2 linked regions of the Homo sapiens genome follow. The protein of the gene in region 2 interacts with the protein of the main gene of each other region in a pairwise test. Each region holds a gene or a part of one and is shown on either strand. Other genes may lie near its edges.

What was found.
Region 1: the proteins of TAS2R5 (region 2) and TMEM187 interact in binary tests that used the Homo sapiens proteins (3 or more experiments, as listed by UniProt).

The regions. Positions count from the first base shown.
Region 1 is NC_000023.11:153,970,711-153,974,621, reverse strand, and holds the start of TMEM187 (transmembrane protein 187), read right to left. Parts: upstream 1,869-3,911; 5' UTR 1,762-1,868; intron 1-1,761. Other genes in the region: HCFC1 (host cell factor 1), read left to right, coding at 3,782-3,911.
Region 2 is NC_000007.14:141,787,794-141,791,704, reverse strand, and holds TAS2R5 (taste receptor type 2 member 5), read right to left. Parts: upstream 1,489-3,911; 5' UTR 1,344-1,488; coding exon 444-1,343; 3' UTR 338-443; downstream 1-337.

The sequences.
Region 1 (3,911 bases), on a different chromosome or scaffold from region 2:
AGCCCTGGATGGGATCATGTCTGCCCTGGCTTTCCACCCTTCCATGACCAGCTTCCCATTCCATGTCCTGGATCATGTCCCAAAGTCTTGGCCAGACTTAAAGTGCCATCCCCATCCAGCCCTGTGAGCTCCTCAGGCCCAGCTCTGTCCTGGAAGCCCTTTGCCCACTTCGCCTGGCCATTGCCCTTGACTCAGCTGTCATTTCCTCTCAGGCACTTCCCCGTTCAGCTCCTGACTCCAGCTGAGACACCAGCTGAGGCCCCGCATGGCGTCTACAGGTCCTTCCCTGCACCCACCTAGGGCCCCATGGCACCCATGCTAGTCTGACCCTCCTGCCTGCCAGCAAGCAGGGCGGAGAGCTGGAACAAGAGTCAAACACTGTCAACTTGATCGAGGAAGAACTCCAGGAAGGGCATGGAAAGCAACTCCTCTTTCCGGCTGCAGGGGTTCAGTCTATCTGACCGGGGGTACGGGCTGACAGTGACCATGTAATCAAAGCACCTGTCCAAGACCCCCAGGAAAACCGAGCTGGTTACCTTATAGCCTAGCTTCCCTGTACCTTTGAATTGCCATGATCCTTATTATGTGACACTCAAATCTCGTCACAGCTTCCCCCAGCGCCTGGCATGGGAAAGCCAACACCTCAACAGCACTGGCCCCTGGGTCTGGGGTCTTTCAGGGAAGCCCTGGGAAGCCTGACAATCTCCTGGCTAAAGGCCCCAGACTCTCCCGCACGCGTTTAAACAGCAGGCACTGTCACCTCCAGGCCTTTAGCATTTATGGTTAGTTATGTCCCCCGCTCCGCATGACCTTTCTTGCTGTCTTTCTGTGGATAAAGGAATATCAATTAACATTAATTTAGCTTCTGGACTGATTCCAGGCAAGGCCCTTGGAAACCAGCAGCTGCTTTTGTGTGTGTGTGTGTGTGTGTGTGTGTTTTTGAGACAGGGTCTTGCTCTGTCGCCCAGGCTGGAGCAGTGGCGCGATCTCAGCTCACTGCAGCCCTGAACTCCCTGGCTCAAGCCATCCTCCCACCTCAGCGTTCCAAGTACCTGGGACCACAGGCGTGTGCCACCATGCCTCCGGGTCTCGCTATGTTGCCCCGGCTAGGCTCAAGCAATCCTCCCACCTCAGCCTTCCAAAGTGTTGGGATTACAGGCATGAGCCAACGCATCAGGCCTTAGTTTTCTTATTTACCATGGGTGGGGGACTTGGGGACATATGTGAGGTAACTAGCCAAGGTCACAAAGAGCAGGTGGTGGCACAGACAGGCAAGAATTCTTCTCTTTGTCCCTTCTCAAATGGATACTTCCAACTGCATGAACTAAAACACAGACGATTACAAAATACATGTAATATGTTGAGAGGCGACTTTAAAAATATTGTTGAAAATGTGTGAGAGGGTGACGTGTGCTTCTTTACTAACGCATTAAATTACAAGGTCTTCCAGCAGGACGCATAACTTCAGTAACTTCAAAGTAATAATTCTGCCCGCCGGTAGATCTGGTAGATCTTGTAATTTAACTGAACTTCTAGACGTTTACAACAAAAGCCACAGGCTCTGACAGGACCGGTCTGTCCATTTCTACTGGCGACTGCCGCTCCCGGGCAGCAGCTTGGGTCCCCGCGCTGCGGCCTGCGCGTGGCAGGGCGGATGCCGCCGCCGCCGCCGCCGCCGCCGCGCCCGGGCGGCCTCCTAGAGGAGGCGAAACGTGGGGGCGAGGCCGGGACCCACCTCCCAGGGCTGCGGTGAGCACTTACAGTATTGGCGCGAAAAGGCCAGCTATCACCATACGGGTATTTCGCCTCACTCGCCTCGCTGGGGGAAATTCAAATCTCCGAAAAGGGAGGATCCGAGCAGCGCCGGTGCGCCTGCGCGCAGGGCGGGACTCGAAGCCTGGGAAGCGGGCGGGGCGAGGTGACGCGAGATGACGCGGACGCCTCCCGCGGTCGCCCGCCCGGCTCGTGCGCCACCGGCCCGACTGCGGGCCTCTCGGCAGTGGGGGCGGCCGAGCGCGCGGCGGTCTGGGGCGCGCGGCCCGGCTCATTTTGCTGCGGCGCGGGCGGAGGCGGTGGCGCCCGAGGGCGGGCCCCGCAGCCTGGGAGCCTGGGAGCGGGCGGAGGCTCCACCCCCGGGCGCCGGCGCTCGGCTGCGTCGCCTCCCACTGTCGCCCCGCCCCCGGCTCCCCCGCGGCGCGCCTCGGGCCGCCTCCTGCGGCTGCTGGGTGTGCAGGGCGCGAAAATGCTCGCTTCCCGGCCGCAGGCGCGGCTGCAGTGGCTGTTCGCCAACCCCGGCCACCTGCGTGCCGCTGTCCCCAGTGCTGGTTAAAGGCAGTTCTTCGGGCGTGCGTCCCTTATCAACCCGAGAGACCGTTCCCAAGGGGGCGGGGCCGAGCGCGTCGGAGGGGTTAGCAGTCTCATCCGGGCATTTCCGAGATGCCGCCGCCGCCATCTTTGTTTTGTGCTGAAAGTCGCTATTGACGCCCGCGGACGGCCGGGCGAGGGGAAGTGGCAAGATGGCGGCTCCCAGGGCGGAGGCGTGGAGGCTCGCCCGGTGGGGGGGCCGTGGGGCGGGGCGCGCCTGCGCCTGCACCTGATCTGAGCGCGACTCGAGCTTTAGCCCAGCGCGCGGCAGCGCCGACCCCCACCCCCGCCGCGAGGCAGCGCAGGGGTCCTTTAAGAGGCTTGGGCCCAGGGGCGAAGCGGTGCGAGGGCGAGTGGGGGGAAGCGGTGACGTCACCCGGCTCCGCCTCCTCGCCCGACCGCCGGCGCCGCTGCCGCCATGTTTAGTTGTTACTTCTTCACACAAGATGGCGGCTCCCAGGGAGGAGGCATGAGCGCCCTGCCGTTACCGCTTCTTCTGCCGTACAGTTGCCGCTTCGGGGCCTAACTCTAGCTCTTTGAAGCGGCTCCTGTGGGAAGGAGTCATAAGGCGGGAAGTGAGGATCGGACACCGCCTTGAGTTTGGTGTGCAGTGGAAGAACTGACCTAGGAGGAAGAGAATAGGGGGGAACGGGGAGCTAGTCTCAAGATGGCGGCTCCCACGGCGGCAGGCGCAGCCTGAGCAGCAGAGGCGGACTAAGGGGAGAGGCGCGAGACTTCACAAGCCGTACGGCGCGAGCCCCCAAACGGCCCTCGAGAGCTCGAGCTGGTTCCACCGGCCTCCGGCCCGCCTCCATTCGTTAGGTGTGTCGAGGCTGTTTCGGGAGCGGCGGCTGCACTAAGGCGCTGGGCGGGGAAGCGGGACGGTCTCAAGATGGCGGCTCCCACAATTGTGGTCTGAGCGCCGGCGGGGCTGCGACGACCGCGGCGCTTGTGGCTCCTTTCCACCCGCCCCGGAAGCCGGCCAGTGCTGGGGACTTGGGGGTGTGGGAACCGGGCCGGGGCTCCGCCATTTCCGGCGGGGGAGGGCTACGACTGAGGAAGGGAGGAGAGAGAGGCGGCTCAAGATGGCGGCTCCCAGGGCCTCCCGCCCGAGCTTGTAAGCGGGAGCGCCCGGACAAGTAGTCGGGGCGACGGGACTCAGCGGCCTCCAGCTTCTTGAGCCTAGGCGCTCGACAGTTTCGGGCGGCTCTTGCGGAGACGGGGTGAGCGAGAAGAAAGGGAAGAGCCAAAGGGAAGGAGGGCAGTTAAGATGGCGGCCTCCATGGAGTCGTCTACCGCTGTGTGAGAAACCGCTTCTCCGTGAGAGCTGCCTTAGACGAAAGGGGGTGTGTGAAAGGAATTGAGGGGCTCCCTTCCCGCTTGTTGACTTCTCCCCACCGCACCCTTTCCCGGAACTATGGCTTCGGCCGTGTCGCCCGCCAACTTGCCAGCGGTGCTTCTGCAGCCCCGCTGGAAGCGAGTGGTGGGCTGGTCGGGTCCGGTGCCACGGCCCCGCCACGGCCACCGCGCCGTGGCCATCAAGGAGC
Region 2 (3,911 bases):
ATGACTAACATTAATGTATAGGTAAAATTTCATAAAAATTAATGATCACTATAATTGTTCCTAATCTCTGTTTTCTATACTAGGAAAAACACAATTTATATATGAATTTTTGCTATATGTAGACAGAATTGTTCCTAATCTCTGCTTTTTATAATAGGAAAAACACGATTTATATATGAATTATTTGCTATATGTAGAGAGAATATAATACCTCTTTTACCAAACATGAAGCCCTAGCCTTGATTTCTGTGGTACATTAAAAAAATATACTTTGCATTGCCAAAAGAGACATAGTATTGGGTTTTGATCCGTATTTTCTGTTGCTCATTCATTACATTGGTGTAAAAGAAGGAAAATCTTAAAAGACATGGAAAGCAGCTCCCTTATAGAGAGCTATCAAAAGAGCGTCCCAAGAGTGTCCTGACCACACTTTTCTTCCCAGATCATGGGCCCCAGCATCTCCGAGCACACACTGTCTTCCACAGGATCTTCTGACAAGTCTGCTTCACCCTAGGAATCCCCATGATCAATATGAGAGAATGAAGAGAAGGATAGGCTGCCATGAGTGTCTCCCAGATGAAGACACTGGTGAGATCAGGAGGATAAGTCTTGGAGGTGATGGAGAAGGGGCTGGCCATGATATAAACCAGGTGAAGTAAGAGGAAGCAGCCCAAGGACTTCAGCGCAGTGATGTGAGCCTTGGCCCGGACATCCCTCCTACCAGCTGAATGGACCTTCATCTTCTTGTGGTGTGTATACAAAGAGACAATCAGCATCCCAGAGGAAACAAGAAACACCACTAAAGGCAAATAACTTCCTGAATTGAGCTGAAATGCATACAGGTACTGCCAGCTTTCAAAGGGATACCGAATGCTGCTGTTTCCTTGGGGAGGATGATAGAATGTTAAGCCAATTTGGACTGTAAGTAACAAATTGATTATAAAGTAGCCCAGAAGGCACCAGAGACTCAGGTTATAGGCCCTCTGCTTCAGCCACAAGTAGGCCGGGCGATCGAAGGTCGTGATCTTCTTGCAATAGAAGACACTGAGGAAGGTGGCAAACCATAAGCTGGCCTGGCTTACCAGGACCCAGAAGATACTAAGATAGCGAAGCCAACGGCTGCTCTGGAAAAGTGGAAACAAGCTTAAGTCCAAAATGATCAGCCACTGCAGGAGAAATCGGCAGCCAGCCAGGCCCAGGATAATGAGGTTATATGAGGACCAGTTGAATTTTCTGATCCATTCTCTAAAACTCCAGACCACCAGGCTTCCATTTCCAATTAAACCGATGAGAAATTCAACCACTGCCACCAGCATCAGCAGTCCTAGGCCAGCGCTCAGCATGGCTGGGGAGAGGAGGCTCTCACTGCTCCTGGCTGAGGTCAGATCCCCTGGTAGTGATAACACACCAGGGTAAATTTTCACACCACAAAATCTGGATTTGGCCTCGTCCTTCCGTAATCTGTCTTCAAGCGAGACTGAACAGCTGTGATGAGGAACAGAGAGGTTGGAAGTTATGATACCATCTGTATTTGCATCTACATGAATGAACCCTGAGTGTAGAACCAGAGATTGCAAACAGTACCACAGACACCGGCTCTCCATCTCAAAGGTTTTGGGCCAAAGTCTAGACACCAGGGTATAACGTAACAAGGCCCCTCAACAAGAAAGACCAAATCAAAACATGCTCAGGTGCTATACAGTGCCAGTTATGAGCTCATATGCTATATAAAAAAAGAAATTTTATTTTCATGAAAAGAACACTGGGCCAGGCATGGTGGCTCACACCTGTAATCCCAACACTTTGAGAGGCCAAGGCGGGTGGATCACCTGAAGCCAGGAGTTCGAGACCACCCTGGCCAACATGGTGAAGCCCCATCTCTACTAAAAATACAAAAATTATCTGGGCGTGGTGGTGGCTGCCTGTAGTCCCAGCTACTCGGGAGGCTGAGGCAGGAGAACCACTTGAACCCAGGAGATGGAAGCTGCAGTGGGCCAAGATCGCGCCACTGCACTCCAGCCTGGGCGACAGAGCAAGACTCCATCTCAAAAAAAAAAAGTAAGCATGCTGAGAACTCTCTACGAAGCTGTAGGCAGGCAGGCCACTGCCCGTCTCTGGGCCTCAGTTGCTCTATTAATAACTGAATGGATTGTAGGATGAGATTTCCATTCCTTCGGACTAAATTTACAAAGTGCTTATTTTGTGTCAAACTACGGTGTACTAGGCACAGGGGACGGCGCCATTATAATACACAGTCCCTGCCTCCAGGTAGCATCCATTGTACATCATCTCCACCAAGCTGCAAGGCCTGGTACTCTAAAACTCTGGCTGTAGGCTATGGAGGGGCAGAGGTGGTCGCGATCTTCTACTGGACTAAAAATCTAGATGAGGCTTGAACTCGTCCAAAAACAGTGTTTCTTCAGTGACTTTCTGATAGAGACATAGTGCCTCTCTCTCCCCACCTGCCCCAATCTAGCCTGGCAGTGGAATTTGCCACCGATCCTGGTAGCCAACTGACACGTTTCCAGAAAGCTAGTCTGGCATCAAAAAAACCAAAGTATCCAGAAATATAAAGGTAGGTTTTTGACTACTTTACTACCGGTGTTGAGAGGCTAAACTACATAGAAAATTGAGATAATAATTTAGCTAATTCCCCTAAGAAAAGTGCTTGCCTAAAAAATATACAGGCTCACCTCTTTTTAAAATATATTATTTTCAAACTATAGCTATTTTCTACTTCCTTTTATCAAAAACATAGCATATTGGCAAAGAAAACTTGATTATCTGCAGTAATTTTTAAAAATGTGATACTTCCCATGCAAAATATGAAAACTCGGTTTTGACTTCTGTAGTTTATTAAAATGATGTGATTTGCATTGCTTAGAGAGCAATAAGCTCCAGTTTCTAGCCTGTTTTTCATGTTACCCTTTCATTTTGTTTCAAAATCAAAGAAGAAATGAGGAGAATTGAGAATAAAAATTTCATTTTTCTAAAATCTACAGTTATTTTTACTGTTGTCAGTGATACAGTTAAGGGCCTGATTAGATCCTTCTTCCAAGTCATGGCCTCTAGGATTTCCATGTACATATCATCTCCTACAGAATTCTCTGACAAGTCTGATTCCTCATAACCATTACAATAGACGGAAATGAAGTATAAACAGCCATGAGTGTTGCAGAGATGGCAAGAATGGTGAGATCAGAGGGAGATTAGAAGGTCATGGAAAAGTGTCTGGCCAAGGCAGAAACCATGTAAAGGGGGAAGTTCAGAGCGATGAGCACCTTGGTTTGAGCCTCCTCCTGACAGCTGTGTGGTCCTCCATCTTCCTGTGATGTCTTTACAAAAAGACAAGTGGAACAGAAACATCACAAATAGCAATCAGTCTCCTTCACTGGACAGCAATCTATAAAAATAACAGATTTAAAATGGGATGCAGGATGTTGCTGTTTCCTGTTAAGGGTTTTTAAAGGGTCCAGCCAACAAGAGCTGAGAAATAAAAAGTGATCTTGAAAGACACTAGCAAAAAACAAAAACCCAGTCTTTTCAGCTACAAGAAGTCAGCGGGACAAAGGTCATGATCTCCATGCAGCAGAAGCCACTGAAGAAAGTGGCAAACTACATGTTGGCCTGGCTTACCAGGACTCGAAGACATTAAGATAGTAAAGCCAACCACTGCTCTGGGAAAGTGGAAACAGACTTATGTCCAACATGATCGGCCTGAGTAGGAGAAAGTGGCTACTTACCAGAATCATGAGAATTTATAGGGACTCCTTACATTTTTTTGACCCATCCTCTAAAACTGCAGACCACAGGGACTCCATTTCCAACCAGGCCAATGAGAAATTCAGCCCCTGCAATGGGCATCAGCAATCCTAGGGCAGCCGCCAACATGGCTGGGGAGGGGAGGGTCT